Homo sapiens: one gene and its partner. The protein of the gene in region 2 purifies or fractionates together with the protein of the main gene of each other region. This does not show direct contact. Each region holds a gene or a part of one and is shown on either strand. Other genes may lie near its edges. The genes, in order: ADAP1 and SYNJ1.

What was found.
Region 1: the proteins of SYNJ1 (region 2) and ADAP1 fractionate together in Homo sapiens (co-fractionation; one large-scale study listed by BioGRID). This does not show direct contact.

The regions. Positions count from the first base shown.
Region 1 is NC_000007.14:933,893-937,703, forward strand, and holds part of ADAP1 (arf-GAP with dual PH domain-containing protein 1), read right to left. Parts: intron 1,614-3,811; coding exon 1,483-1,613; intron 1-1,482. UniProt on the Homo sapiens protein: GTPase-activating protein for the ADP ribosylation factor family. Binds phosphatidylinositol 3,4,5-trisphosphate (PtdInsP3) and inositol 1,3,4,5-tetrakisphosphate (InsP4). Regulates the incorporation of CD63 and CD9 into multivesicular bodies.
Region 2 is NC_000021.9:32,644,263-32,648,073, forward strand, and holds part of SYNJ1 (synaptojanin-1), read right to left. Parts: intron 2,341-3,811; coding exon 2,131-2,340; intron 1,528-2,130; coding exon 1,384-1,527; intron 745-1,383; coding exon 706-744; intron 1-705. UniProt on the Homo sapiens protein: Phosphatase that acts on various phosphoinositides, including phosphatidylinositol 4-phosphate, phosphatidylinositol (4,5)-bisphosphate and phosphatidylinositol (3,4,5)-trisphosphate. Has a role in clathrin-mediated endocytosis.

The DNA of each region.
Region 1 (3,811 bases), on a different chromosome or scaffold from region 2:
GGGTCAGTGGTGCTGGAGAGCCGGGGGCCGGGGTCAGTGGTGGTGCAGAGCCGGGGACCGGGGTCAGTGGTGCTGGAGAGCCGGGGGCCGGGGTCAGTGGTGCTGGAGAGCCGGGGGCCGGGGTCAGTGGTGGTGCAGAGCCGGGGACCGGGGTCAGTGGTGCTGGAGAGCCGGGGACTGGGGTCAGTGGTGCTGGAGAGCCGGGAGCCGGGGTCAGTGGTGCTGGAGAGCCGGGGGCCGGGGTCAGTGGTGGTGCAGAGCCGGGGACCGGGGTCAGTGGTGCTGGAGAGCCGGGGGCCGGGGTCAGTGGTGCTGGAGAGCCGGGGGCCGGGGTCAGTGGTGGTGCAGAGCCGGGGACCGGGGTCAGTGGTGCTGGAGAGCCGGGGACTGGGGTCAGTGGTGCTGGAGAGCCGGGAGCCGGGGTCAGTGGTGCTGGAGAACCAGGGGCTGGGATCAGTGGTCCTGGAGAGGGGGTGCCAGAGTCAGTGGTGTTGGAGAGGGGGGGCCCAGGGTCAATGGTGCTGGAGAGGGGAGAGACATGTACAGGAGGCCACCAGCCTCTACGACCCTCCCCATCCCCACAGCAGCCCCCAGACCACCACTCTCACCTCCATGCGGCCCTTCGGTCCCACTCACAGCAGTCAGGAAGATCAATGGCTTCCAGACCCCAAGTCCCACGAGTGGGGCTGGGGTGACCCTCCCACCGGGTCTTCAGGCCCCACGCTCCATCCGACCTGCAGCCCCCAGCCGGGGTCTTGTTCCTTCTCCACCTCCCTCGGGGTCTCCCTACGGGGCCCTTCCTGCCGCCTCCAGCATGCGTGGCCCCTCCCTGCACGCCAGGGCTTCCTGGTTGGCTCACACCCGTCTCCCTCCCCATAGGGGCGTCTCTAGGGCCCCACGAAGCATCTGTGGCTGGTGTCCCTGCCTGGCCATGCCAAGTGCTCCGTGAAGCCTCATCAGATGCATGGGTGAGAGGTGGGCAGTGGCTGTGTCACCTCAGAGGCCGCCCAGGGGACAGGTAATGGTGCCCTACACGGCAGCGGGCCGGGGTGCACGTGGACTGCCGTGTAAATGCGACCCTGACTCTGGGTCGTGCCGCGCGGCCTGGGACGCTGCATTCTGTTTCCTTAGAGACAGGGTCTCTTTTACCCTGAGCCCAGTGCTCCAGGTGTGGGGATTTGAGGGGAGCACTCCGGAGCTCCCAGGGCACGGGAATCGGCGACCCGCCTTCGCTCCCTGGCCCACCACACACACCTGGAGCTGCTCACAGAGAGGTTGGACCCGGCACGGGGTGGGTGGAGCAGCCACACAGGCGGAGCCGCTGGAGAGGGGGCGGGGTCCTCGGGTCCAGCCAGCCAGGCCCCCAGAGTAGCCCAAGGCTCCAGGGGCCACAGCCAGGCCGCCCGGCATCTCTGGCTCCAGAGGCCCGGGCTGAGGCCACCCGGGGACTGCGCGGGTCCCCCCGCCCCTCCCCCTCCGTACCTCCACTTGGGCCTCCTCCCAGGCGTCCAGGCGGACGGACTTCACCTTGCTGACCTGGGGGATATTCCGGTGGATTCCCGAGCAGCTCAGGCAGATGAAGACGCCCAGAGTGTAGGAGGCCCAGTCGGGATCTGCAAGGGAAAGCCGGACGTTCACGGAGGCTCAGCCCAGGGACCCCGGAGGGAGGGTGGACGGAGCCTCGAGTCAGGAGCCCCCGGCCATGCAGTGGGGGGGGCTTCAGCGGAGACCCCCGGGTACACCAGGCTCCGTGCGCCCCACAGGCACCTAACCCCAGCTCCCCCCCCGCCCTCTGCCCGGTGCAGACGGGGCTCTCCCCAGACACCCCACGGCATCTGAGGAAGCCGATCTGCATGCACCTGCTCTGCCCCGCGGGTGCCGGGAACCTCCAGCAGAGGCCGGCCCCACAGGAGCCCATGCCCCGGGCTGGAGGGCACCCGGCACTCGTGAGGATGGGTCCACCTGCTTTCCTCGTGTCCGCTGCCCTGGGAGAAGTCTGTGGGCCCGAATCCTCCTGGGTGATGGGGCCAAGATTGGGAAATTCAGATAGGATCTGAGTGCAGGGGGTGCCTCACACCCAACGCGCTGCACACCCCCGAAGGACGGATGGTAGCCGCGGATGACGACGCACCCTGCGTGGGGTGACAGCGCCCGGCGGCCACTAACTTTGCAGGTGTGACAGCGGCGCTGTGGCTTCACCCTGCATGTGGCCTGTCTAGGGATTCCACGTCTCGATGTCTGGTTTGCCTTAAAAGGTCCAACAAAGCTGGACACAGTGGCTCAGGCCCGTAATCCCAGCGCTTTGGGAGGCTGAGGGAGCAGAATTTTTTTTGAGACATAGTCTGTTGCCCAGGCTGGAGTATGATGGCACGATCTCGGCTCGCTGCAACCTCTGCCTCCCGGGTTCAAGCGATTCTCCTGCCTTAGCCTCCCGAGTAGCGAGGCACGCACCACCATGCCCGGCTAACTTTTGTATTTTTAGTGGAGATGGGGTTTCATCATGTTGGCCAGGCTGGCCTCGAACTCTTGACCTCAAGTAATCCACCTGCTCGGCCTCCCAAAGTGCTGGGATGACAGGCGTGAGCCACTGCCCAGGGTGTGGGTGCCACAGCGCAGTCTTTCTGCTGCTGCACGTGTGAAATGTCTCATTCTGAAACGGCAAAATGTGGGGAGCGTCCAGCCCCGCCCTGGGGCGATGGCTAAGAGGGCTGCTGTGTGACTCTCCTGTTTTCTTCTGGCTCCCAACGACCCTTCACAATAAGTCAAGGGAGTGGAATGGCTGAAAGGCACCCTAGAGAGAACAGTCTCTCTGGGGGAGATGAGTCATCTCTGAACTGCTTTTATTTTTAAGTGGAGGCTCTCCTGGGTGAGGCTGGTGGAAATCGAGGCGCTTCCCCACAAGCAGGTGCGGCTGTGGACCCAAGCCTGTTTGGGGAATCATGAGTGGAGAGGACCCCACCCTTCAGGCCTGGCGGAGGATAGCCCCCCTCCCAACGCTGATCGGGGCCCACCCCTGGCTGGTGGGGGACTCCCATGCCAGGCGGCGGAGGCCCAGTGGGGCTGGGGCTGGGCCTGGGCTCTGAGTCACTGCCAGGAGGAGAGGCACCCAAGTGAGCCCCCGGCCGGGGATGGTGCGTGAGAACCAGCAGGCTGAACCTCGGATTTGGGGGTCATGCCCGGCCTCTGGGATTTGGGGGTCACGCCGGGCCTCGGATTTGGGGGTCACGCCCGACCTCTGGGATTTGGGGGTCACGCCCGGCCTCTGGGATTTGGGGGTCACGCCCGACCTCTGGGATTTGGGGGTCACGCCCGACCTCTGGGATTTGGGGGTCACGCCCGGCCTCTGGGATTTGGGGGTCACGCCCGACCTCTGGGATTTGGGGGTCATGCCTGGCCTCTGGGATTTGGGGGTCATGCCTGGCCTCTGGGATTTGGGGGTCACGCTGCACATCTGGGATTTGGGGGTCACGCCGGGCCTCTGGGATTTGGGGGTCACGCCCGACCTCTGGGATTTGGGGGTCACGCCCGGCCTCTGGGATTTGGGGGTCACGCCCGACCTTTGGGATTTGGGGGTCATGCCCGGCCTCTGGGATTTGGAGGTCATGCCCGGCCTCTGGGATTTGGAGGTCATGCCCGACCTCTGGGATTTGGGGGTCACGCCCGGCCTCTGGGATTTGGGGGTCACGCCCGACCTCTGGGATTTGGGGGTCACGCCCGGCCTCTGGGATTTGGGGGTCACGCCCGACCTCTGGGATTTGGGGGTCATGCCCGGCCTCTGGGATTTGGGGGTCATGCCCGGCCTCTGGGATTT
Region 2 (3,811 bases):
ATAATTTAGCTATTCTTATCACACGCAGTCATTAAGATCTACACACAGGCAAAGTCAGTCTGTAGTAAGACCTGAATTGCTCAGCCATGTCACTAGGCAAGCTACAATAGAAACAGACCAGGCTACACATGCACAGTGAGCCTTAGTAACACTGGATTTGTAAAAGTTCTTCTGAGGAATTGTGAAAACTCATCTCATCTTTTCTTGAGATTTAGATTAAATAAACTTGTCAAATGTATAACTCCAACTGAGCTCTGTGAGTTTTCATGTAAACCAAATAAACTATACTTCAAACAAAAAGTGACCCTTTGTGAATAAAAATTTCCTTATGAAGAAAGGAAAAGAAAATCATACAGTTCTTTGCTAATCCAAAAGCTTTTCCACTAGAAAATAAATGTATCACTAATCAGATACTTGGGAAATGTTCTGTATTTACTGTACCTGAATGACTTTTAAAATTAATATAACTTTTGGGTATTAAATCTTTGTAAATGAATCGACCACATTTATTAAAAAAAAAATTAGGCCTGATGAACAATCCCAGCCTACCTGGGAAATGAAAGCCTTTATTAGTTTTATTTGTGGATTAGTTTTAAACTAGAATGTCATTCATTTTGACTTTTATCAAACAAATCTAAAATGTCTTTCAGGTGTAAAACATTAATGAACCACGATTCACACATGCTAACAAATGTAAATGGTTACCTCCAAATTCCTTTCTAGTGGGTGCAGGACTCCTAGCCCCTTATAGTTCATAAGAAAATAGGCAGCAGAAAGGAAATGACATTAAATACAGAAGTGAAATGTCAAAGATTGCTATAGTATCCATGACATCAAGTATCATGCAGGAATTACATATTATCTACGTACTACAAAAACTATTATTCAATGCATATGCTTATAATTGAAGTAACAGCACTATATTTAATTTAAAAGAACATTAAACAAATACATACAATTGTACATTAATACGTATGCTCTCCAGTTTTATTATACTTTTACAGAAATTAGTACATTTTAATTATTTTATGCTTATAAATCATCCAGAAATGAGGATTTTGAAAAAAATTAAACCTAATTTTACCTAAGAACAGTTTACATGCCTAACTAGATCAAATTAGCAAAAACAAAATAAACCTCTCTGGCTGGCTGGTGAGAAGGCAGCTAAAGGCAGCTGTGAAAACACCTTAGAGGAATCTACTCTGCAAACACTCTACCTTGTCTGTTGCGCCTACCATGTTCTTTAGAGAAAAGCTAAGAAATAGCAATAATGATAGAAAAAACTGTAAAATCCAGAAGCTAGAGATTGGAAAACATGCAAAACATTTTAAAATAGAGTGAAGAATTTTACATCTAGCAGAAATGGAAATAAAAGGTTGTCACCTGAAGGCGGAGGAGGTCTCTGTGGGGGAGCCGGGCGTGTGGGAGGGGCGACCGGGCGGGGCGGCGGCGGCCGCTTGGGCTCCAAGGGCTGGGCGGGGTCTTTCTGCGGCAGCGGCGTTGCTGGCTGCGCGTCAATAGGAGAACCTAAAAAGCGCACAGGAGGTAAGAAGATCAGCTTCTAAGTAGCTGTTGACAGAAGGGAACAGTCCTTCATATATATGTGTAATGTTCTATAAAATGTGCACAATGGTGTAAAGAAAGGGCATGTATTTTCAGTATGAATAACAAAAGCAGTCTACTATTAAACTGCCCTTTGGTACCATGGCAGCAATAATGCTACCTCTGTGCTGACTTCTTACCTAGGCCTCAGGTGCTGAAAGCTAATTTACTAAGTGGCCCTATTGATATGCACAAAGTATTGTTTGAGTTAAGCCATTTTGTAGTCTGGCCAGTAGAGAGAAGAAAAAGCTCAAATAGTTAACGGGTTCATACCATAGAAAATCATCAGTTATAAGACATAGACAAACCTAACCACATAGAAAAAAGATTAAGAACAATTGTCATCTAGTGACAGTTATAGCAAGTTTCCTTTCCATTGAGAGCTTATCATCTACAAGTTTTCCTATTCTGTACCGGAGAAAACAGGGTGCACTTTATCACCTAGGTATGAAACTTAAACGATGACTCTCCAACATCAAGCACATTGGCCACAGGAAGCCATACAAAACTTTCAAATAAAATGCATACTCTGTGCACTGGGAGGCCCAGGAGTTCTTGACGGTGCTCGGCTTGGTCTGATGGGAAGGGAAGGTACAGGACCCTCTGATATTGTAGGTGACTGGCAGGGACTAGTTCGGGGTGAAGAGCTGGGGGAAGTACCAAGGCCGGAACTTGAAGATGGCTGGAGATGCTGAGGAAGAAGTTCCTCCACTTCAGCACTATAGTCATCAACATCACCTAAGGAAAAGCAGGCTTGATCAGAGATAACTCCATTTTAACTTGCTCAGAGATTTTTTTCACCTTAGGTTTTAAAAAGTTAAAATACACAAAACAAATATGAACATTATGTCATTGCAAACACACATGGATTAAGCATGAAGGCATGTATAAAACCACAATTAGTAGAAATGCTTGTTTCAGAAGATGTAAAGGTATCTATTGTCTCTGAGCAATAAGATGTCAGGTGACCAACCACTTGGAGCTGGGGTGACCCAATGGGCTTTCAATATGCCCCAGAGCAGCTTCTCCAGTGCAAGCCAACTCAAGTTTCCTGCTCTCCTTCCAAACCTGTCCACTGTGCTCTGTGGAACTGCCCCACTCCCTTGCCTAACCCAGGTCCAGCCTCAGAGTCAACAAGCTCTCAGGAGCCACACAGTCTTCCCCCAGAAGGCTCCTCCCTGCAACCCTCACCCCACAAAGACCCGCTTTGCTTTAATTAAGTAAACACTGGTTCTCCCCCAGGGTCTCCTCATCTCCACTTACTTCTGGGTAGGAAAGTGGGCACAAGGTAACCCTTGCAACCTAACTGCCATTCCAGAACATTAGTCTTCCAACCCTGAACAAAAAGTCCTACTGCTCTGAGGCTATGCCATCAGGAATTTATGTAACATCCTCTACCCCCACTTGCTACAGTCATCTCCAACGTCCATTCTTCCATTTCCTGAACCCACTCACTGAGGACTAAGCAGAGAGCAAGACTGTAAGTCAGGTCCCGCACCATCTTTCTGCGTGGCATCAAAGTCCATGTGGACAACTCGTTCAATAGCAAAATGCCTTGGTCCTATCCTTATGGACATTCGCCTTCACTCCTAACCCTCACCCCTCAGAACTGCACTCTTCTGAAATAATAAACTCAAAAGCTTCACTCTGACTTTGGCCTCCCAGCTTTTCAGTTCTCTCCCTTGGCTACTCCTTCTCTTTTGATTTCTTCAGAAGCCAGGGTTTGATCCCTCTAACTTTTACCTCCATCTGATTCTGCTTTCTTCTGTACCTACCTTCAGATTCTATGGTTCTTCATCTCAAACATTACCCTACTTCACTCTTCTTCCATTGCACGTGCTTGACATAACCCCATCCCTGCACTGATTCCCCTGTTTAATCTTTCTGTGATAACACTTGGATTGCTGACTGCCTCTGCTAAAGAAAACCACCCAGTCCTGACAACTGCAGTCACATTTGAAATTATGCTTTTCAGTCTCTTCTGGCCTAAAGTGCCTGGCAATTCCATGATTTGCTGGTTTGCTCTTCCCCTCACCCTTTGCTCTTCAGGAGCTTTACTGCAAAACTCCTTAACCCTCCTGAAACTGTGAGCTGTCCCACTCCTGCAGATCACTTCAACACTTCACAGAGAAGAGGGAAGTCTTAAGATGGGAACCCCTACTTCAACAGCCTGCCCCCAAGCTGGAGTCTCATTACATGGTTGTCACTT